3 separate regions of the Homo sapiens genome follow, and all the other regions are linked to region 3. The links come from fine-mapping of genetic effects on gene expression. A gene starts in region 3. Each other region holds a variant in brackets. All regions are shown on one strand. Distances are from middle to middle.

Region 1 (8,179 bases), 110 kb before region 3:
AGTTTACCTAAGCTCTTCTAGAAAAACAGATCCACCATTATACATTTAAATTATCCAGTCTGCTATGTGGCTTTTCCTGTCCTGCTTCTTGTGACGTAAGGGATTCTGTCTTTGAAACAAGGGGGCCAGAGATGTACTGTGATCCATAAATTCAACTCGGGATCAAACAAGATACTCAGGACCCTGGGATCTTGGCCAGGACGTGCCCTAACTTGCTTCATGTACAATGGGCTGTCATGTCACTGTTCTCTCAAAAACTCCAGACGGGAAGTAAGGGTTGTGACTAATTTCAAAGGGCACAGCGGGGAGCCACACTGCCTGGAAAGCAGGCTGCAGGCATTGCCTCCCGGGGAGTTTGATTCTGAGTTTTATTCTAACATGATCAAAGCAGTAGTTGGGGTGGGGAGCATTCTGAAAAGGAGGCATCAGATTAGGACTATCTGAATTTAAATTCTATTTCTACTTGGGAAAATATGCATTTAAATCATTGACAGCTTCAAAATTCTAATGATTCTGTGAACTATTGGAATTAGTAAGAGACTCATCAAACCAAGAGTAATTAAATGACCAGCTGTGGGCAGTGTGGGACTTCAGACAAAGCAGAGAGAGGTCTGTGTGAGGAGGCACAAGCTTGGCCCTCTGTGGGGCGGGGTGGGTGGTGATTTTGGTCAGGAAAATACACCAGCAGCAAAGGCACCACTGCCAGTCCACACGTGGGCTCTTAGTCTTGAGCCCCTCCACATTGATTTCTTTCCCTTACTGTACCTATGTTAAGGCACGGAAGTTTTCACCATGGGCATGTTTAGGTGAAGCCCGCTGTCCACAATGACCTGGGCAGGTGGGAGGCTCTCCAGGGACCCTTCTCTATTTGCCTAGGCATTTGGCTCTCTCCTGCCTCTATCACAGGTAGACCGGCCTCTTAGACTAAGCCACTGGACAGCTTGGGGAAAATGGGGCCTCTCTGATGGCTTTTTTCTTTAGGATAAGTTTCAAGTGCTCTAACAGAGACTCACAAGAATCGTGGCTTAAACAAGATAGATGTCTATTGCTCTGTCTCCCAGTCGTCCAGGCAAATAGTAAGTCAAGGCTGGAATGGCAGCTGCACAGGATCTAAGACCCTGGTTCCTCTTTTCCAGTTGCTCTGCCATCTCTACGGTGCTGCCCTTGTTGGCATTCTCCAAACTGGCTTCCCCGTCCCCACAATGTTCTAGGCAACAGGATGGAGGATGGGATAGAAAAAGATCACACCCCTTCCTGTTAAGGATATGATCTAGAAGTTACATCCAATGATTTCACTCACAGTCTTTTGGCCAGAACTGAGTGTGTTACCACACCCAGAGACAGGGGCATCTAGGAAATAGAGTCTTGATCCTAGGCCACCCAAATGCAAATCCTATCACTATCAAAGGAGGAATGGATGGATATTGGGGCTCCACCAGGCAGTAACCACTACCCATAGCACCTCACTTAAAACAACACATCACATCATTTTCAAGCAGTGTACAAAGAATGGCCCAAGATAATGATAGTATTGAAAAACCACCTTTGCAAAAATTATAACAGTGAGAAAATTATGACAGTGAAAGAGATCTGATCTAACCAATCCCCATCTTGTCTTTAACCTCCAAACTGCCTTGGTCATTCCTGGGCTTGGGCCAAGCTAACTTGGGGAGTTACAAACTTTAGTTTACAGTTTAAATGATAATAGTCCTTCCCCAAAACTGAACTGCCTTTGTAAAATGAATAAAGGACCACCCGGTTAGGAGGATGAGAGAAGCCTGAATTCTGCTAAGATGTAGGTGTGAACAATTACCAGCCATTATTCTGTAGGTCACAAGATTTGCAACTTCCCCAGTTACTCCTGAGGATAACATCCCTCTTTTTTTTTTTTTTTTTTTTTTGAGACGGAGTCTTGCTCTGTCGCCCAGGCTGAAGTGCAGTGGCGGGATCTCGGCTCACTGCAAGCTCCGCCTCCCGGGTTCACGCCATTCTCCTGCCTCAGCCTCCCAAGTAGCTGGGACTACAGGCGCCCGCCACTACGCCCGGCTAATTTTTTGTATTTTTAGTAGAGACGGGGTTTCACCGTTTTAGCCGGGATGGTCTCGATCTCCTGACCTCGTGATCCGCCCACCTCGGCCTCCCAAAGTGCTGGGATTACAGGCGTGAGCCACCGCGCCCGGCACATCCCTCTTAAAGAACCTAAAATTGGTCTTTGGAGATGTCCTTTCAGGATTTTGCATTTCTCATGACCAGATGACCGGACCTTGACTCTTGGCCCAACCAGTCCTGCGGACCCACCCAGAAGCAGACTTAGTGCACAAGGACCATTTTCCACATCCCTATGATTGCATCCCCAACCAATCAGCCGCATCTGTTCCCCTCGCCCCCTGCCAGCCAAGTAACCCTTGAAAAACCTAGCCTCAGAATTTTCCGGGAGGTCGACTTGAGTAATATCTTCATCTCCCACATGGTGTGGCCAGCCTCATGTCAATTAAACTCTTTCTTTATTGCAATGCCATGGTGTCATTGAATTGGTTTTGTCTGTGCCGTCGGCAGGAAGAACCCATCAGGTGATTACAATATCATTATCAGAAACAAGAGGAATGGGGAGGGGAGCCAGCAACTGAAATTGGATGATTCATTTCAGAATGCTAAATGGACCTCTGAAGGGACATTGGCTTGGAGATCTGGCACTTTAGCTCAGGGGAGAAGTCAGATTTGGAAACCAAGGTGGCAGGCATGATGGGAGAGAGCAGGGATGCCCTCCAACAGTGAGAGGATGTGGCTTATCTGGGACTGTCACAGTACTGTGGCTATTATCTGAAACTGTCTCCCCAAAGACACTGTAAATCCTGCTCTCCAGTAGTATTCCATGTTCTGAATGGCACTAGTGTTTAACCTTGGGTGAAAACGTGTTCCTTTTTCCTATCAAGTCCGTATTTGAAGACTTGATTGGCAATGACTGCTCCTAACTAGGCAAGCTGGCACCTTCTTGATGTCAGTCCCTTTTAGCGAATGTGTACACACTGGTAGGGGGCAGAGGGGAAAAGACAGGAAAAAGAAAAGTGCTGAGAATTCCAGGTCACCCACTGCAGCACAAGCTGGCTACCTTTTCTCTGGCAGTTGTTGTTAAGAGCATTTTCCAGCACCCTGAAGTTTTCATCCCCCATTGTTCAGCCACCCATTTCTAAAGAGTTAGCATAATAAGTGGGATCAGGGGTTAGGTGGACTGGGCACCAGCACCTTAACCCTGGGGGTAGAGATAGATTTCTGGCTTTTAGGAGTGAAGTTGATTTTAGAGTATAAAATGCTGCCCCCACCCCATTCCAGGGCTGCTGGGTGTAAAAGGAAAAGAAATCTTGGGACCCCAAAATCACTAAGCCAAAGGGAAAAGTCAAGCTGGGAGCTGCTTAGGGCAAACCTGCCTCCCATTCTACTCCTGAAAATGATAGCTACTAAGATCTTTTTTAAAAGCTACAAACCTCCCTCACAAGGCATTTCCTTACGGACAAAGGACAGACAGAACTCGAAGTCATCCCTCTGCTCACTGAGATAAATGCATATCTGATTGCCTCCTTTGGAAAGGCTAATCAGAAACTCAAAAGAATGCAACCATTTTGTCTCTTATCTACCTATAACCTGGAAGCCCCCTCCTCACTTCGAGTTGTCCGGCCTTCCCGTACAGAACCAATGACGGAGTGGGAAGATGATCTTCCCCTGGAATTTGGACATCCAGTGGCCAAACTCCTCTTCGACTGCCCCGCAGCCGAATACCTCTCAGTGCTCAGACATTCTCCTCTTTCTCTGCCGTGCCTTTCTGCCATTCGTCTGCTTGTCTCCTTGTCTCCTTGTCTGCTTCTGGAGCCTGGGGTTTGGGGTTTATATGGGTACAGGATGGCCAAAAGGCAACCTTTTGGGTGTGAAAACAGGAATCCCTGTCCTCCTTTAGGGTCACGGGTATCTGGGCTTCAGGGTGGGGGCCTTTGCCGGAGAACCGCCCTCTTCTACCCAGTGTTTCCCTGTCTCCTGTCCGTATCACCAGCAGATGGTGCCTACTTTTTTAAAGCCATCATCTTATCTTCTAGCTGTACCTATTTTTTTAAATATATGTTTTATTTCAACAGCTTTTGGGATACAAGTGGTTTTTGGTTACATGGATGAATTGTCTAGTGGTGAAGTCTGAGATTTTGCTACACTCTTCACCCGAGTGACCCCAGTAGTGTACATTGTATCTAATATGTAGTTTTTTTATCCTTTATCCCCTCCCACCCTGTATCTATTTTTAATTGCTTTGTGAACTAAGGCAAATGTGATAAAGAGGCATCTGATGTACCTGCTTCTAGCATACAAGAAAACATATTTCTTGAGCATGCTGTTACATGCTTGACACTTTATATACACTATTTCATTTAACATCCCAACAATCCTAAAACCTGGGTTTTGTTATTGAAGAACCCAAGGCTCTGAGAGTTAACTAACTTGCCCAAGGTCACACAGTTAGCAAGTTGTGTGGGCAGGATATAAGCCCAGTCTGGCTGCAAAGCTATGTTCTTTACACTGTAACTTACTCCTGAAGGAAGGAGGCTTAAAAATAATCCATGCAGAATTTGTATCAGCTTGATATGTGTGC[CTTATTA/C]TTATTATTATTATTATTATTTTGAGACGGAGTCTTACTCTGTTGCCCAGGCTGGAGTGCAGGGGCGTAATCTCGGCTCACTGCAACCTCCACCTCCTGGGTTCAAGCCATTCTCCTGTCTCAGCCTCCTGAGTAGCTGGGATTATGGGCGCCCACCACCATGCCTGGCTAATTTTTGTATTTTTAGTAGAGACAAGGTTTCACCGGGTTGGCCAGGCTGGTCTTGAACTCCTGACCTCAGGCGATCTGCCCACCTTGGCCTCCCAAAGTGCTGGGATTACAGGCATGAGCCACCACACCTGGATTGCCATATTATTTTAATAGAATAGGATAGGACAAAACTTAGAAGGTATTGGATACCATTTTCCCTGTTGAAGGAGTATTGGTAAGACACCGTCAAAGAGAAATGCACCGCGTACACACGAAGAGGAACCATTTGTAGGTGGTACATAAAAGGGTAAAAAATAGGCCGGGCGCGGTGGCTCACGCCTGTAATCCCAGCACTTTGGGAGGCCGAGGTGGGCAGATCACAAGGTCAGGAGTTTGAGACCAGCCTGGCCAACATGGTGAAACCCTGGCTCTACTACAAATACAAAAATTAGCTGGACGTGGTGGTGCATGCCTGTAGTTCCAGCTACTCAGGAGGCTAAGGCGGGAGAATCGCTTGAATTGGGGAGGCGGAGGTTGCAGTGAGCTGAGATCGCACCACTGCACTCCAGCTTGGAGGAAAGAGTGAGACTCCTTCTCAAAACAAAAAAAAAAAAAGGTTAAAAAATAATTATAAAAGGAATATACCCAGAGTTTTTTTATTAGAAAGTGTTGTATAAAATCTTGAAAGTAGAATAGTTCTATAAAATGTATTATCTATAGATCAGTAAGAGAAGATATAAAAAGACATATTTTTAAAACTAAACAAAATGAAAATGGAAAAGCAACATTAATATTATATGTGGTGTCAAATTAGCTTATTAAAAGAAATATAAAATCTAAAATCATATTAACTTATTAAAAGAAATATAAAACCTAACAGAAAAACTAAAATTAGAGGACAGAAATACCATATGTCAGTGGAGTTTAAAGCAACTGGAGCTGTGATACACCGCTGATTGGAGTGTAAATTTTTTTGTTGTTTCCTTGAGAAACTATTTGACGTTACCTACTCAAACTAAACATACACCTATACTCTGACCCAATAATCCCACCCCTAGGTAAATACTCAAAACAAAATGAATGCATGTGTCCACGGAAGGACACACACCTGCGCATTCACACCAAGTGTATTTACAATAGTCAAAAACCAAAATAAGTCAATTACCTGTTAACCATAGGTAGATATTTTCGGTCTCTTGGCTTTTAAAGCCTTCCATGATTTCCTATTGTTTTCTGACCAATTTTATTTCTTGTTCCTATTACCTAAAAGCTCACAGTTCCAAACAGGTGAGATTCCTTGGTCCCCACTGGATGTGACAAGGAAATATGTTAGGGACTCTGCACATTCGGGCAGCTGGGTCAAAGGATGGACAAACCTTGAGGGTTAGAGAATTAATTGCCCTGGGAAGGTCTCTGCAGGTTTATCTGCCTGGAGCGAGGTGTTTACCTTTCAAAGAGTAATAAAACCTGGATCCATTCACTTTGGTTTTGAATGGCCAAAACAATCCAGGGATTGTTAAGTGCTGTGACTTAAGAAAGGAAGCAGCCAATTCACAAAAGAGTGAATAAACATATACAAATGTCCAAGCTCACCAATACAGAAAAAAAAAAAAAACACAGCTCAATAACATTTTTCATTTATCAGTCTGGCAAAGAGTTTCAAAATTTTTTAACAGCCAGTGGTGGAAAGGCGCAGGTGAGCCTTCTCACACACGGGGATGGAAGTTACTTTGGAAATAAGTTAAACGCTTTAACTCACACACACCCATTGTTCGTTTTTGGAATTATCCAAAGGAAATATAGTGGATCCATGCAAAGACAGCAATTTCAAGAGGCTCATCACAGGGTTATTTTTGATAGAAAAACCTAACAGTCCAACAATAGGATGCTGGTTAAATAAGGTATGATATACCCATCCATTCTGAAATGCTGTAAAAAAAAAAAAAAAAAAAGTATTTAATGGCATGAAAAATGTTCACAACCCATTGTTTAATGAAGAACAAATTATAAACAATATGCAAAGTGTGTGAATATATAGGTACTGTACATGTGCACACATATGTGTAATGTCAAAGACAGAATTACAACAAATTTTGTTATAGATCTCATTGACTTTTATTGGCGATGAATCAGGGCAGCCTCCATTCTACAAAATAGAATGAGAGCTTCCACCAGGCAATGGCAGAACCGTGGGTTTTGTAAGGTAGAAACAAGGAATAGAACAGTAGGAAAAAACTGATTAGTTAACATCAGGTTACTTCAGGTTGCTTTTGTAATAAGGGTTAAAGCAGAGGGGACTTCCTTATATACTGCTGACTCAGGAAGGCTGGAATCTCCTGTTTGCAGGAAAACTTGGTCTGTTTTGGAAATCTATCTGCTTCTTTAAAGTTTTAGTCTGATTATGTGGCATTTAGCATGAGCAACTTCATTTTGATTTGGTCTGGTCTATTGGAGCCTAGTGCAGGAACTCAGTCTAAGACAATGGCCTCTCATAATTTTTGTTTAATGATAGAAAAACACTGGAAGCCTATATTACCAAACTGGTGGGAATATGGGATATTTAAATTTTCTTCCTTCTGCTTATCTATGTTTTCTAAGTTTTCAAAAATGAATACTCATTACTGCTGGATTAAGAAAAAGAATAAACATTATTATATTTAATAACACAAAGGAGCAAACTGAGAACTGGATGCAGCTTGGTAGTTGCCCGGGCAGGACACTGTCCCAAGCTAAGCTCCTCCCCAACATCCCTCAGGCCCAGAGCCAGCCCTTCCTCCTCCCGAGCGCCCTGCCCTGGGATTCTCAGACCTTGAAAGCCACAAGTCTTGAAAGTCTCTGAAGGAAGAGACAGGGAGCAAATGGAGTTTCTGATGCTTCTCCCAGGCAGGTGGGATCATGATGCAGGATTTTTCTTGGCCCCTTTGTGGGACTCACAATGGTGGATCCCCATCTACTTGGCCCACTGTACTCAGCCCCTTGCAAGAGGGAGCACATGAGCAAGCAAGTGCAGGATCCAGCTGGCCGCTCCAGGCACTAGCAGGAGCAAGCTCCATGCAGGGCCCATGGCCAGACCAGGCATGAGTAAATGAGTGTGGGATCCAGCTGGCTGCTCTGGGTGCCAGCAGGAGCAAGCTCCATGTGGGGCCTGTGGCAGCGCCTAGGTGGGGGCACCCACAACCCCAAAACCCCAGAGGGAGTGTTACAGTGCTCTCTTAGTTCCCCCATCTGCAGACAGTTATGTGTTAGCAGCTCAGTTGGCCATTTGTCTTGCCACACGGGGCAGCTGCTCTTCACCAGCAAGGGCAAAGGGCCAGTGTGATGGACTTTCTGGGTACCCACACTTGGTGGGTCCCAAGCTCTTGTCTGGTGTCCAAGAAGAATGAGATCACATGG
Region 2 (8,179 bases), 77 kb after region 3:
AACGCCTGAACCGCAGCTGCCAGGCGTTCCTCCAGAACCTCCTCCCACAGGAGCTTGCTACATGTGCCGGAAATCTGGCCACCGGGCCAAGGAATGCCCACAGCCCGGGATTCCTCCTAAGCCATGTCCCATCTGTGTGGGACCCCACTGAAAATCAGACTGTTCAACTAACCTGGCAGCCAGTTCCAGAGCCCCTGGAACTCTGGCCCAAGGCTCTCTGACTGACTCCTTCCCAGATCTTCTCGGCTTAGCAGCTGAAGACTGACACTGCCCGATCGCCTCGGAAGCCTACAGGACCGTCACAGATGCTCTAGGTAACTCTCGCAGTAGAGGATAAGTCCATCCCCTTCTTAATACGGAGGCCACCCACTCCACATTACCTTCTTTTCAAGGGCCTGTTTCCCTTGCCTCCATAACTATTGTGGGTATTGACGGCCAGGCTTCTAAACCTCTTAAAACTCCTCAACTCTAGTGCCAACTTAGACAACATTCTTTTATGCACTCTCTTTTAGTTATCCCCACCTGCCCAGCTCCCTTATTAGGCCAAGACATTTTAACTAAATTATCTGCTTCCCTATTCCTGGACTACAGCCGCATCTCATTGCCAGCCTTCTCCCAAACCCAAAGCCTCCTTTGCATCTTCCTCTTGTATCCCCCCACCTTAACCACAAGTATGGGACATCTCTACTCCTTCCCTGGCAACCGATCACATGCCCATTACCATCCCATTAAAACCTAATCACCCTTACCCCGCTCAACGCCAATATCCCATCCCACAGCACACTTTAAAAGGATTAAAGCCTGTTATCACTCGCCTGCTACAGCATAGGCTTCTAAAACCTATGAACTCCCCTTACAATTTCCCCATTTCACCTGTCCTAAAACTAGACAAGGCTTACAGGCTGATTCAAGATCTGCGACTTATCAACCAAATTATTTTGCCTATCCACCCCATGGTGCCGAACCCATATACTCTCCTATCCTCAGTACCTCCCTCCACAGCCCATTATTCTGTTCTAGATCTCAAACATGCTTTCTTTACTATTCCTTTGCACCCTTCATCCCAGCCTCTCTTCACTTTCACTTGGACTAATCCTGACACCCATCAGGCTCAGCAAATTACCTGGGCTGTACTGCTGCAAGGCTTCACAGACATCCCCCATTACTTCAGTCAAGCCCAAATTTCAACCTCATCTGTTACCTATCTCGGCATAATTCTCATAAAAACACTCGTGCTCTCCCTGCTGATCGTGTCCGGCTAATCTCCCAAACCCCAATCCTTTCTACAAAACAACAACTCCTTTCCTTCCTAGGCATGGTTAGTGCGGTCAGAATTCTTACACAAGAGCCAGGACCGCACCCTGTAGGCTTTCTGTCGAAACAACTTGACCTTACTGTTTTAGCCTCGCCCTCATGTCTGCTTGCAGTGGCTGCCACTGCTTTAATACTTTTAGAGGCCCTCAAAATCACAAACTATGCTCAACTCACTCTCTACAGTTCTCATAACTTCCAAAATCTATTTTCTTCCTCACACCTGATGCATACACTTTCTGCTCCTCAGCTCCTTCAGCTGTACTCACTCTTTGTTAAGTCCCACAATTACCATTGTTCCTGGCCCAGACTTCAATCCGGCCTCCCACATTATTCCAGATACCACACCTGACCCTCATGACTGCATCTCTCTGATCCACCTGACGTTCACCCCATATCCCCACGTTTCCTTCTTTCCTGTTTCTCACCCTGATCACATTTGGTTTATTGATGGCAGTTCCACCAGGCCTAATCGCCACTCACCAGCAAAGGCAGGCTACGCTATAGTATCTTCCACATTTATCATTGAGGCTACTGCTCTGCCCCCCTCCACTATCTCTCAGAAAGCCGAACTAGTTGCCTTAACTCAAGCCCTCACTCTTGCAAAAAGACTATGCGTCAATATCTATACTGATTCTAAATATGCCTTTCATATTCTGCACCACCATGTGGTCACATGGGCTGAAAGAGGTTTCCTCACTACGCAAGGGTCCTCCATCATTAATGCCTCTAATAAAAACTCTGCTCAAGGCCGCTTCACTTCCAAAGGAAGCTGGAGTCATTCACTGCAAAGGCCATCAAAAGGCATCAGATCCCATTGCTCTAGGCAACGCTTATGCTGATAAGGTGGCTAGACAAGCAGCTAGCTCTCCACCTTCTGTCCCTTACAGCCAGTTTTTCTCCTTCACATCAGTCATTCCCACCTACTCCCCTGCTGAAACTTCCACCTATCAATCTCTTCCCACACAAGGCAAATGGTTCTTAGACCAAGGAAAATATCTCCTTGCAGCCTCACAGTCCCATTCTATTCTGTTGTCATTTCATAACCTCTTCCATGTAGGTTACAAGCCGCTAGCCCGTCTCTTAGAACCTCTCATTTCCTTTCCATCCTGGAAATCTATCCTCAAGGAAATCACTTCTCAGTGTTCCATCTGCTATTCTACTGCCCCTCAGGGATTGTTCAGGCCTCCTCCCTTCCCTACACATCAAGCTCGGGGATTTGCCCCTGCCCAGGACTGGCAAATTGACTTTACTCACATGCCCCGAGTCAGGAAACTAAAATATCTCCTAGTCTAGGTAGACACTTTCACTGGATAGGTAGAGGCCTTTCCTACAGGGTCTGAGAAGTCCACCGCGGTCATTTCTTCCCTTCTGTCAGACATAATTCCTCGGTTTGGCCTTCCCACCTCTATACAGTCAGATAGCAGACCGGCCTTTATTAGTCAAATCAGCCAAGCATTTTTTTCAGGCTCTTAGTATTCAGTGAAACCTTTATATCCCTTACGGTCCTCAGTCTTCAGGAAAGGTAGAACAGACTAATAGTCTTTTAAAAACACACCTCACCAAGCTCAGCCACCAACTTAAAAAGGACTGGACAATACTTTTACCACTTTCCCTTCTCAGAATTCAAGCCTGTCCTCAGAATGCTACAAGGTACAGCCCATTTGAGCTCCTGTATAGATGCTCCTTTTTATTAGGCCCCAGTCTCATTCCAGACACCAGACCAACTTGGACGGTGCTCCAAAAAAATTGTCATCCCTACTATCTTCTGTCTAGTCATAATCCTATTCACCGTTCTCAGCTACTCACACATGCCCTGCTTTTGTTTACACTGCCGGTTTATACTGTTTCTCCAAGCCATCACAGCTGATATGGATGCTATCCCCAAACTGCCACTCTTAAGTCTTAAAGTAAATAATCTTTGCTGGCAGGACTATGCTGAACCTCCTTAGGCACTCTCTAATTAGATGTCCTGGGTCCTCCCAATTCTTAGACCTTTAATACCTGTTTTTCTCCTTCTCTTATTCTGTTTAGTTTTTCAATTCATACAAAACTGTATCCAGGCCATCACCAATAATTCTAAATGACAAATGTTTCTTCTAACAACCCCACAATGTCACCCCTTACCACAAAATCTTCCTTCAGCTTAATCTCTCCCACTCTAGGTTCCCACGCCGCCCCTAATCCCACTTGAAGCAGCCCTGAGAAACATCGCCCATTCTCTCTCCATACCACCCCCCAAAAATTTTCGCCGCCCTAACACTTCAACACTATTTTGCTTTATTTTTCTTATTAATATAAGAAGGCAGGAATGTCAGGCCTCTGAGCCCAAGCCAAGCCATCACACCCCCGGTGACTTGCACATATACACCCAGATGGCCTGAAGTAACTGAAGAATCACAAAAGAAGTCAAAATGCCCTGCCCTACCTTAACTGATGACATT[C/G]CACCACAAAAGAAGTGAAAATGGCCGGTCCTTGCCTTAAGTGATGACATTACCTTGTAAAAGTCCTTTTCCTGGCTCATTCTGGCTCAAAAAGCTCCCCTACTGAGCACCTTATGACCCCCACTCCTGCCCGCCAGAGAACAACCCCCCTTTTGACTGTAATTTTCCTTTACCTGCCCAAATCCTATAAAACGGCCCCACCCTTAATTCCCTTTGTTTTCTTTTCGGACTCAGCCCACCTGCACCCAGGTGAAATAAACAGCTTTGTTGCTCACACAAAGCCTGTTTGGTGGTCTCTTCACAAGGCGCATGAAACTCCCACCTCAGCCTCCTGAGTAGCTGGGATTACAGGCACCCACCACCACACCTGGCTAATTTTTGTATCTTTAAGAGAGATGGGCAGGGCGCAGTGGCTTACGTCTGTAATCCCTTCACTTTGGGAGGTCAAGGAGGGCGGATCACAAGGTCAGGTGGCCGGAAGCAACTGAAGATCCACAAAAGAAGTGAAAATAGCCTTAACTGATGACATTCCACCATTGTGATTTGTTTCTGCCCCACCCTAACTGATCAATGTACTTTGTAATCTCCCCCACCCGTAAGAAAGTTCTTTGTAATTCTCCTCACCCTTGAGAATGTACTTAGTGAGATCCACCCCCTGCCCACAAAACATTGCTCCTAACTCCACCGCCTATCCCCAAACCTATAAGAACTAATGATAATCCACCACCCTTTGCTGACTCTCTTTTTGGACTCAGTCCCCCTGCACCTAAGTGAAATAAACAGCTTTGTTGCCCACACAAAGCCTGTTTGGTGATCTCTTCACACGGACACGTGAGACAGAGACCAGCCTGGCCAACATGGTGAAACTCCATCTCTACTAAAAATACAAAAATTGGCGGGGTGTGGTAGTGCATGCCTGTAATCCCAGCTACTCAGGAGGCTGAGGCAGGAGAATTACTTGAACCCGGGAGGTGGAGGTTGCAGTGAGCCGAGATGGTGCCACTGCACTCCAGCCTGGGTGACAGAGCGAGATTCTGTCTCAAAAAAAAAAAAAAGAGAGAGAGAGAGAGAGAGAGAGAGATGGGGTTTTACCATGTTGGCCAGGCTGGTCTCAAACTTCTGACCTCAGGTGATGCACCCACCTTGGCCTCCCAAAGTGCTGGGATTACAGGCCTGAGCCACTGCACCCAGCCCATGTTGCTGTTTGATCAATATCTGCCTCTCAGCTAGACTGCCAGCTCCCTGAGGGCCGAGACACTGATTTGTAGGTGCTCAGCAAGTGTCGGTTGAATAAATTAGTGAATTAATTGAGGATTGGAGGGGGTGCCAATAAGCAGGGCAATAGCAGGGGAGGGGGTTCTGGATCCGTTTGGAAAATAAGCTGAAGAATAATGTCAACTTGATTTTAGATGTCTTAATTTCTCAGACTGAGGAGCAGCACAGCTCCCTCCCATGTAGTCCCATAACCAGGAAAGTGCATGGAGGAAAAAGGACACAGACACTTCCCTGGCTGGGGGGCCACAGTGCCTGTGCTCTCCTGTAGCCTGGAACAATTCGCTTTGCCTCATGGTGCCCGGGGCTGCCCCTTGGAAAAAATACAGCCACCCAGTGCAGGGCTGGGACTGGGTGTGGGAAGTGAGGCACATCCTCTGTGCTGGTGGTACAAGTGCAAGTGCAGATTCTGGGGCCTCTCACCTCATCCTCATCCCAGCCTGAACCAGTGTTTGCCTTGCCCATGTCGGGAAGAGATCCCATGATAATTTCAGAGATGCTGAGTTTCCTGGCTTAAAAATTCCTGGTCTCCAGTGCCAGCGTGGTGTGGGAAAACACATGCAGCTCCCCCATCCCCCAAACCTGGGAGAATGACCCTGGTAGGTTCCGCCCCAGGGCACCTGGAGATCTGAGCATGGAGGTCTTCCGGGAGCCTCACTGTACCTGCATGGTCCTGCTTCCACCTGCCTGCCTTGCACTGAGCACTAGAGGCTGAAACAAACATTAGCAGAAAATCCAGATTCTAGAAACAGATGACATGCGCCCTGAGATGACGCCCTAACATGCGCCCTGACACGCGCCCAGGGATGACAGGCATCCTTTTGAAGCATTTACTTGAGAAGAAGTTCAAGTAGGGTTAAGTTATTCCATATAACTATATTCCATATCGCACGTCTCCGTTCCTGCAATGGTAGCGATACTCCATAAATATGTGTTGATGAATGGACAAAACTAAAGGGAGGGAAGAAAGTGGGGGAGAATCTTGAGCTCTGTAGCTTTGGAAGGAGAAAGAATACAGTGGAACCTTTTCTGAAGCTCTCAAGGAACGTGTCCTTGGAAAAATGTGACTCTCCCCCTTCTCCTAGCTTGCTCCCTCATCCTGCAGAAAAGCCGCTCCTCCCTCTTCCATGGCAGAATGGTATTGGCAGGGGAAACCTAATGTGCTAGGCAGAGCTGGGAATAGAACTCAGTCTCCTGAATTCCATATATTCTCTTTCCACCGATGTCTGCTAAGTGCATCCAGAATTGCTCTGGTGGACGGGGCAGGTCAATGAAAGCAGCAACTTGAGCTCCTTCCAGCAGGTGCCGCCTTGCATCACCTATGATCCCATGTGTCATTCACGTGTATGATTGTATATGATCCTCTGATCCCCTGCCCAGCCCAAGCCTCTAAGCTCCTCCATCTGTCGCAGGAGCCTGGCCTGTGGTCATCAGCAGGATTGTGAATGGATCCGCCCAAACTTGTCCTACTGGAAAGAGAATTCTGGTCTGCTGGACGAGTAGATCCTTTCTTTTCTGTTTAATTATTCATTTGTGCCATTTGATTTAATATTCTTAATGTTAACATAACGCGTATTTGTTGAAAAAATAATATTGGTGGAAACATTGAGGTACAAAAAGGTCAGGAAGAAAAATCCCCCCTCTTCCACCCCCGGAAGCTGTCATGATGATTTCTCACTTTGGCCTACTCTCTTCGTCCCCTTCGCCCTTCATTCTTTTCTTTTCTTTTTTTTTTTTTTTTTGTATTCATGGTTCAACTGATCCCTGTTGACACATGGCACGTTAGCTTTGGGTTGCGAGGGCTCCAGGCATCTCGGCCTCCCAGCTGGTGGCCTGTCATCCTGGGAAAATTTTCAGATTCGGTGCATTTTTAGGCCCAGGAAAAAGGCAACAGCTTTAAAATAAGGCATCAGAATTTGGGACAAACTTTCCGAAGCCTACATGTGAGATTTGAGATGTTTTTCAGGGGCGGCTAAAGACAAAGCTGGTAAGTAGGGTATGTTGAGGTCTATTTTTAGGGAATATGGTGGGCTAAGTTCTTGGGATTAACACTCCTATTGAAACCAACTAAAAATGCTTGATAGAACGTTATTTTTTCTTGAGACAGGGTCTTTTTTTTTTTTTTTTTTTTTTTTTTTTGAGATGGAGTCTCGCTCTGTCACCCAGGCTGGAGTGCAGTGGCGCGATCTCGGCTCACTGCAAGCTCCACCTCCCAGGTTCTCGCCATTCTCCTGCCTCAACCTCCCGAGTAGCTGGGACTACAGGCGCCCGCCACCACGCCCCGCTAATTTTTTTGTATTTTTTTAAGTGGAGACGGGGTTTCACCATGTTAGCCAGGATGGTCTCAATCTCCTGACCTCGTGATCCGCCCTCCTCGGCCTCCCAAAGTGCTGGGATTACAGGCTTGAGCCACCGCGTCCGGCTGAGACAGGATCTTATTCTGCTGCCCAGGCTGGAGTGAAGTGGTGCAATCTCGGCTCACTGCAGCCTCCACCTCCCAGGCTCAAATGACTCTCCCTCCTTAGCTTCCTGAGTAGCTGGGACTTCAGGTGCACGCCATTACCCCTGCTAATTAAAAAAAAAAATTTTTCGGTGGGGTTGGGAGCAAGGGGAGGGAGAGCATTAGGACAAATAGCTAATGCATGCGGTGCTTAAAACCTAGATGACGGGTTGATAGGTGCAGCAAACCATCATGGCACATGTATACCTATGTAACAAACCTGCATGTTCTGCACATGTAAAATGTGCAGAACTTAAAGTAAAATAAAAAATAATATTTTTTTTGTAGAGACAGGGTCTCACTATCTTGCCCAGGCTGGTCTTGAACTCCTGGGCTCAAGTGATCCTCCTGCCTCAGTCTCCCAAAGTGCTGGGATTACAGGCATAAGCCACCATGCCTGGCCTAAGATTTTTTTTAATCTTCTTATGAACACTGAAGAATTAACGGGTGGTAAAGAATTACTAAGCCAGAGTGTGGCATGATGGCATGTGCCTGTAGTGGCAGCTACTCAGGAGGCTGAGGCAGGAGGATCGTTTGAGCCCAGGAGTTCAAGATCAGCCTGGGCAACATAGTGAGACCCTGTCTCTAAAAAATAATAAATAAATAAATATTTTTTTAAAATTCAGACCAAAAAAAGAATTAGCCAAAATTT
Region 3 (8,179 bases):
AAAAAAGTGGAACAATTATCAATTTCAGGAAAACCATAAATTTTAACAAAAAAATGTAATCAGAATATATTACATGGCTCACCTGCAAATATCTACACAGCCATAATTCAAACACAGAACAGAGATTAAACAAAGCAATCATATAGTTAATATTGTGGGGATATGGAGAAGAGGAAATGGGTGTTGGTATGTGTCTGGGGGTAGAATAGGGAAGGCAGAGCTAAGATCCTGAGCTAAATCTTCATCTCCCATAATGGGAAGTCAGTAGATAATGTTCACAATCAAAAAGCCAACAGATAAGATTAAATAAAAAGAGGGTGGCCAATGCTGAAAGGAAAGCGAAACTGAGTGAAAGGAGCAAGGGGCATGGGTGGGAAATGGGGCAGGATCATGTTTTTTTCATTTTAAGCAAAATGTTTTAAATTACTGCACATGTAAACTTTGCTAAAAATAAAATCTAACCTAAAAAGAAAACGTGACTATGAAGTAAGGAATCGGAGACAGTCTAGACCACTCTTCATAGCATATTGGCTATGGGAGGAAAAGAATCTCACGGTTCACAAGCACTTCCACCCCCAAACCCCAACACACACACACACACACACACACACACACACACACAGAATTTCCTAACAGCTTTTTAGTATCCATCCCTTAAATAAGAATGAGAAACGAAGGATCATTAGACATTTGAGAAAAGTGCCTAACATGAAAATAGAGAATTACCAGCAAAAAGAAACAAAGAGGCAGAAGTGAAAGATTGTGCTGAAGAAACACAGAAAGAGAAGAAAACAAACGAAAAATTCTAATATATATCCTCAGTAAGATAAAACCCTACATGCATCAATCAGGAACCAGATACTGTGTTGTAAAAAGAAATAAAAAGGGACGGAAAGGAGGGAGGTAAGGGAGGGAATAAATGGCAGCCCAGAAAACAATTCAAGAGCTCTTACATTTAAAAGAAAAATAGGATCCCTCAAATGGAAAATGTAATAAGAGATTTAGAAGATACAGCTGAGAGTATCACCCAGAAAACAAAACAATAAAAGATGAAAATCTGTCAAGAAAAAACTTAGAAAATTAGAGGATAAAATGATAAAGTCTAATATCCAACTAAGGACTTCAGAAAAAAAAGAAATGGGAAAAAAAAAAAAAACAGAAATAAGAAAATAATTCCAGAAAACTTCCGGGAATTAAAAACATGAGTTTGTCTATAAAGACCTGCCAAGTGCCCAGCAAAGCAAAGGAAAACAGATCTAGATCAAGGAAAAATGTCAGAACATAAAGGCCAAAGAGAAGACCGTGAAAGCTTCCTGAGGGCAACACATTACCTACAAAAGATCAAGATCAAGAATCATAACGAGGCAGGCTGTAACATCAGCAGTCATAACACATAAGGAGGAATGCCCCCAGAGTTTCTACGGACAACTGTTCCAACCTAGAATTCCATGCCCAGCCACACTCACCAAATTGTAAGGGTAGAATAAAGCTATCTCTTGGCATTCAAAGAAAGCTAACCTCTGAACCATCCTTTCTTGGGAATCTACTAGAAGATGTGCTCCACCAAGAAGGGGTAAACCAAGAAAGAAAATGACATGAAAGGCACACGACAGAGACTCAAACCCAAGAGAGAAGCCAAGAAAGGTCCTAGGAGGATGGCCAAGGGCCCTCCCAAGATGCCAGCCAGGCAGCAGCCCACAGGAGCAGCAGCCAGCCCAGACAGAAGTAGGTCAGGGGCCCTGGGAGAGGCATCTTAAGATGACAAGAGTGATAGTGAACCTGATGTGTTGGTTGTATTGTGAAAGAAAAAAGGGAATCATGGGAAATAGTATGGGTCAGCTTTGAGTAACTTTTTCCATGGGCACAATACGGTACATACTAATTATGAATCCAACAAACTCTATGAGGACTGTATTGTGCAGGTGTGGAGATGGGCCGTGTGTGTGTGGGTGAGGAGAGCAGTAAAAAAGAATTAAAGTCAATAGATAATGTTAAAAACTGAAAAAAAACAATCACATGTCAATAAAAGCCATGTTACTTGGAGATACAGAAATAAATACCAAAGGAAAAACCAGGGTGTTATGTATGGCATAGGGCTGATGTGCTTTTGTAATAAGTCAGACAGAACTACGTGATTCTATGTGCATCTATGGCTTCAGGGAAAGTAAAAAATTTTATATTTTATAGAAACTCAAAAGAGTGCTCATTGCACTAGTATTTAAAACCATCCACTTAAAAACCAGGATATTTAATCTTGTGCAAGCAACACAGGAGTCAAGAGGGCCTTACGGGTAGGAGCAAAACAAAAGATGCTGCGATTGAGTCCTGAAAGCAGAAAACATCCTTTCTTCTTCCTGATGCCTAAACCAGAAACGTTAGCAGGGAAGAAATAACTGAGAGGACGCTATATTTAAGGAAACCAAAATAATCATGAACTCAGAGCTTACCTGAGCTGGTAAATACAGGCACCATCCATATCACAACGCTGCCTAAAAATTGTATTTATATTGCATGCAAATATTTGACAACTCCATCACAAACAATAAAAGATCGGGGAGAGAAAAGCCATTTAGCCTGATAAAGTACATCTCAATTTAGCTAGCAGATCAGTACCCACAGGAATAATCTGGAAGGCATGTTCCCTACCCCCTCCACCTTCTGTTATTTGCATTTCTAGCAGTGATCACTGAAGCATCAGGATTTGTGGGGATTCACAAGTAACATCATGATGGGAGGAGGCAGCCCTGCCTCCGATGATGAGCTGAAAATAGCTGAAGATGGTAAAACCAAGAGCAAAGCAACCCGGCTCATAGCCGAAATTTCATCTCCTCCTCAGCCTCTCACAGAGAAGCCAGGAAGAGTCTGATTGGCTTGCAATCGGGTAAACAAAAATAAACACATAAATGAATAAAGTCACTGATCCTGAGCTTCCGTTTTTTCATCTATAAAACTGAGATTAGGGCCGGGCATGGTGGCTCACTCCTGTAATCCCAACACTTTGGGAGGCCGAGGCGGGCGGATCACGAGGTGAGGAGTTTGAGACCAGCCTGACCAACATGGTGAAACCCCGTCTCCACTAAAAATACAAAAATTAGCCGGGCGTGGTGGCGCGTGCCTGTAATCCCAGCTACTCGGGAGGCTGAGGCAGGAGAATGACGTGAATCCGGGAGGCAGAGGTTGCAGTGAGCCGAGATCGCGCCACTGCGCTCCAGCCTGGGCCACAGAGCGAGACTCCGTCTCAAAAAAAAAAAAAAAAAAAGATTACAACATGGTCTCTTTTGGGATTGTTTTGAATATTAAATGACAACATACATATTCCCAGATCAGTGACTGAATGTCTAACAGGCTCCCAATACATTTTCCATGTTTTCCTCACTCGAGCCTTTTTAAAATCCAGTGATCTGGAAGGAACCATTGGTTACTCCAGGCTGTACTGAGGCGTTCAACTGGGTCCCCAGCCCTGCAAGCCTCTGGGCAGGAAAGAAGGTGAAGGGGCCATGCCTTGAAAACACGCGCAGCGCCACCGGCGCTTTCGGATCTGGACAGGCGAGGGAGGATGGGGAGGGACGGAAGGGGAGAGGCCCTAGCACTTATAAAGATGCTCTCACAGCCAAGTTATTCAACACTCCACGTAAACAAATGCAAAATATTCTTTAGGGACAGCGTAGCGAGGTCGGGGAGTTAATACGGAAAACAATGGCCCCATTCATCAGACAAAGCTTAGCTCTGTGGTTCTTAACCTTTTGGGTTACCTTTGAGAATCTGATTAAAGCTGGGGCTCCTCTGATCAAAAATGGGCGCCTAGAAATAAGCAGATGGGACTCAGTGGTTCGCCAAGAAATAAGATGGGATTCAGAGGTTTGCCAAGCCGCAGAGGCCCGCGAGGAAAGACCCCAGACTCAGCCAGCGGCGCTTCAATTGAGTTCACCGCTGGCTCGACCGAAAGCCACCTAATTAAGGAAATAAAGGGTGGCAAAGGCTGCCACCTTCCCTATTTTGTCAAGAGAGACGGATTCTGTCAACCGAAAAAAAAAAAAGGAAGAGCCAGCCCCGAGTGGCGCAAGAAATAAGAGATCAGCTGCTCAGAGCTTAGAGCAAACCGTCCCTGCGTGCAGGCCCCTCGCGCTCCCCTCCGGGCCGGGTACCTGGCAGAGCCGCGTCCTCCGCGTCCTCGGCCTCCGCGTCCCCGGCCTCCGCGTCCTGCTCCTCCGGGGCCCCGCGCGCCCGCCGTTCCGCCTCCTCCTGGGTCGCCGGCTCTACGGGCGGCGGGGGCGAGGGCGGGGCGCACCGGGGTGCGGGGCCCCCGGCGCCCGACGACTCTGACGACGCCGAGTCCTCCGAGGAGCCGGCCGGGCCCCAGTCGTCCCAGAGCCAGGGCGCGTGCGCCTGCTCCAGCAGCCGGCGGCCTAGGCGGTAGTGCAGCAGCTCGCGGTAGCACGGCCCGTACTCCTCCCAGCGCGGCTCCTGGTAGCGCTTCATGTACTCGCTCTTCACCCCGCTCCCCGGGGACATGGTGCCGTCCGCCGCCTCGAGCGCCAGCCGCTCCTCGCTGCCCGCAGCCTACGGGACCCGGTACACGACACAGAGGCCGCCCCGCCCCTCCGCCGGCCCTGCCCGCCGCGACGTTTAAACCCGGAGCCCCGCCCGGACGGGAGCAGGGGGCGGGTCCCGGCGAGGGCGGGGAGGGGGCGGGGCGGGGGCGGCCTCACCCGGCGGCCGGGACCAAGAGCAGAGGCGGGGACCGGGGCTGCTGGGGTCGAGGGGCGCGCCGCCGAGGAGGGCTGCTCAGTGGGCGGAAGGCAGGGAGGCTGCGGGCTGGGGCGAGGGGACCGCAGGAGACTGGGGCTGAGCGGGAGGAGGAGCGAGGGAGGGGAGCGGCGGGGCCCGTGATCGGGTGGTCCTGGGGTCTCCGGAGGCGTCCCCTGAGCTAGGCGTGCGGTCCCGCGGGGCTGCCTTACCTCCTTCCCGCCGCGCCCGGCCGATCCTCTGCGCCCAGGCCCGAGGCGCGCGTGGCGCAGCAGCTAAAGCGCAGCTCGCTCTCCCGCGCGCTTTCCTCCTGAGCAAGATGTCGCCGCGGCGGCCCGCGCTCCAGCTGCAGGCGGGAGGCGGTGGCGCCGCCTCAGTCCCGGAGCCTCCACGCGCGCTCCCGGCCCCCGGGCCTCCGCCCGCTCCGTGGGGGCGGCTGCTTCCGTAGAGAGCGCGAGGCGCGGGGGTGCGGGCGTGCCTGCCAGTCCGAGGGGCCCAGGCCCAGGTCCCTGGCCCACTTATTTGAGGTGCCCGTCCACCCTGGTCCCAGCAGACGCTGTCCCAGGCACGCGTCACTCTGCAGGAGTCGTCAGTTAGGGGCAAGAGATGATCCCTCCAGATATGCAGCCCCCCCAGGCTGCGGCCGGGGGCGACACTCTCTGTCCTCACTCGAAACCTACCGGTTCTTCCTCTCTGTGTTCACAACACCTGTTACTCTGGCTTTAACTCCCTTTTATATCTACACTCCCCAAATTCTTTTAGATTTTGATCAAAACCATTTCACTCGCTCAGAGATTCGTTTGCACATAAAAGCTTGACAGATTAACTTACGTTGTGCAGAAGTATACAAAGTTGTCCCATTTGTTACAGTTTCAAAAGTGGCCCCACACTCTTTTCCCTTTTTACACATAAAACCTTCACAGATCCAGTTACTTTGTGCAGAAGTATACAACGTTGCCCCATTTGTTACAGTTTCAAAAGTGGCCCCGCACTGTTTTCCCTTTTTGCTCATAAAACCTCCACAGATCCGGCTGAGCGCTGTGGCTCACGCCTGTAATCCCAGCATTTTGGGAGGCCGAGGCGGGTGGCTCACGAGGTCAGGAGATCGAGACCATCCTGGCTAACACAGTGAAACCCCATCTCTACTAAAAAAATAAAAATAAAAAGAATTAGCCCGGCGTGGTGGTGAACGGCTGTAGTCCCAGCTACTCGGGAGCCTGAGGCAGGAGAATGGCGTGAACCCGGGAGGCGGAGCTTGCAGTGAGCCTAGATTGCGCCACTGCACTCCAGCCTGGGCGACAGAGCAAGACTCCGTCTCAAAAAAAATAAAAAATAAAAAATAAAAACCTTCACAGATCCAGTTACATTGTACAGAAGAATACAACGTTGCCCCATTTGTTACAGTTTCAGAAGTGGTCCTGCACTATTTTCCCTTTCTTAAAAAAAGAGCCTTGATACAGTAGCTGCAAAAAGATTTGAAAGGAAAAAACTTTTGGAAAATCTAAATATATATATAGCAGTTAAAAAGCAAGCCCAGGCCGTGAGTAGCGCTCACGGCTTCCACGTCAGGATTCCCACGAATTCACCTACTTTCTACGTGTCCGCATCCTGCCTCCCACCACCACCGCCCACCTCATCATAGCTAAATGATTCAGAGGCGGCTACTGGCCCAAATGGGGCGGGTCAGACCGTCTGCTCTGAAAACTTGAAGTTACTAGTCCAATCATTAGCACGGGATTGTGTTAATGGCAGTTTTCTGGACGGAAACTCCAGGATACCCTGCTGCTAATGAGTCCGCGGACGCCATGATTTCTCCCCTTCCCAACTTTATTTTCTGTTCCTTGACTTACATTAGGGACATTCTAATGCACTTTCCTTTTGTTTAAGCTGGCTGGGGTTGGTTTCTGATGTTTGCAACCAAAGTAGCCTTAATAAAGATTGAATAAGGTGGGGAAATGGTTATATGTAGTTCTATGGGACATGCAGGACACCATCGGTTTCAGCTTTTGCTGCATAATTCACTCCAAAACTCAGTGGTTTAAAACAGCTAAGATTTATTATTTCTTATGATTCTGAGGGTTAGCTGGGCAGTTCCTCCGCAGTTGGATTCTGATGGAGAGACAGCAGGGCTGGAAGTTTCAAGATGACCTCCTGATATAGTTGGGATAATTCCTCCAAATCTGAAGTTGAAATTGATCCCCAATGTTGGAGGTGGGGCCTAGTGGGAAGTGTGTGGGTCATGGGGGCAGATCCCTCATGCATGGCTTGGTGCCATTCTTCAGTAACGAGTGAGTTCTCACTCTTTTAGTTTGCATGAGAGCTTGTTGTTCAAAAAGAGCCTGGCATGTCCTCCTCTCTCTCTCTCACTCCCTTTCTCTCTCCATGTGACATGACAGCTCCCCTTCCCCTTCCACCATGATTGGAAGCTCCCTGAGGCCTCACCAGAAGCAGATGCTGACACTGTGCTTCCTGTATAGCCTGCAGAACCATGAGCCAAATAAACCTGTTTTATTTATAAATTACCCAGCCTCCGGTATTCCTTTATAACAGCACAAAACAAACTAGTACACCTCCCTTACATAACTGGCAGTGGGGTGGGCTGTGGGCTGGGCCGTCTTGGTCACATCCTCCAGAAGCCTGGACTGGCATCTCAAGGTCATATACATCTCCTGCTGCATTCTCACGTTCAAAGAAATCACAAGGCTAAGAGTCAAGGGAGAGAAATGAACTTCCCTTCTGCATAAGAGGAGCAGCAAATTCACATTCCAAAAGGGATTGCATACCGGGTGAAGGAATTTGCGGGCATATTTTACAATCTTCAACACAACACACACACACACACACACACACAAATATAAGGGCACTCTGGGAGGCCAAGGCAGGCGGATCACCTGAGGTCAGGAGTTCAAGACCAACCTGGCCAACATGGCGAAACCTCATTTTTACTAAAAATACAAAAATTAGCTGGACTTGGTGGTGCATGCTTGTAGTCCCAGCTACTCCGGAGGCTGACAGGAGAATTACTTGAACCTGAGAGGCAGAGGTAAGCTGAGATCATACCACTGCACTCTAACCTGAGCGACTGCACCCTATTTACAAGAGAGGCTTGCAAATATCTGGCTTTTCTAGGTTCTACACTGGCATGGGAATTCATAAAAAGTGTCAAGTAGATAGCGGATGTCTCCTGAGTATGTTTGTATTTGGAAGGGGCAGTCGGGGGCTGGGGACGGGGGGAGAGAGAGGGAGAGAGAACAGCACCATCCAGAGACAAATGGGAAGGAGAGGGCAGTGGATGGAAGGAGCACTGTGTGGGAGGAGTGGGTACAGAGCACGTGAATTGGGGAGGAGTCAGGAGGAGTGGGTACACAGCATGTGAGTTGGAAGATCAGCTTTTTCTCAGAAGCAAGGAAGAGGGAAGTTGAGGAAGCCCTCG

Which allele goes with the higher level. Alleles are on the strand shown, and positions count from the first base shown. SD is a standard deviation of normalised expression in the study named. Not every link is listed here.
For the expression in iPS cells of the gene that starts at base 5,094 in region 3, allele C in region 2 goes with a lower level than allele G (large effect, 1.4 SD a copy in PhLiPS).

The links. PIP is the estimated chance that this variant, and not a neighbour inherited with it, causes the effect. A credible set is the group of variants that fine-mapping cannot tell apart.
Region 1: its variant is the best candidate, but not a certain one, in a credible set for the expression of CCSAP in naive CD4 T cells (Schmiedel 2018, PIP 0.60).
Region 2: its variant is the best candidate, but not a certain one, in a credible set for the expression of CCSAP in iPS cells (PhLiPS, PIP 0.62).

What each region holds. Positions count from the first base shown.
Region 1 is chr1:229,231,317-229,239,495 of GRCh38, forward strand. No RefSeq gene overlaps it. Among named protein-coding and RNA genes, the nearest start is that of TMEM78, 14 kb to the right of the region's middle. The variant CTTATTA/C (reference allele first, on the strand shown) is at 4,631.
Region 2 is chr1:229,414,598-229,422,776 of GRCh38, forward strand. No RefSeq gene overlaps it. Among named protein-coding and RNA genes, the nearest start is that of ACTA1, 15 kb to the right of the region's middle. RefSeq lists enhancers at 111-611, 1,874-2,375, 3,007-3,762, 3,763-4,516. The variant C/G (reference allele first, on the strand shown) is at 3,756.
Region 3 is chr1:229,337,954-229,346,132 of GRCh38, forward strand. CCSAP (centriole, cilia and spindle associated protein) reads right to left here and starts at 5,094. Exons shown (of 4, transcript NM_145257.5): 1 at 4,959-5,094; 2 at 4,146-4,560. The coding sequence starts at 4,512. RefSeq lists silencers at 4,143-4,342, 4,543-5,402, 6,249-6,543.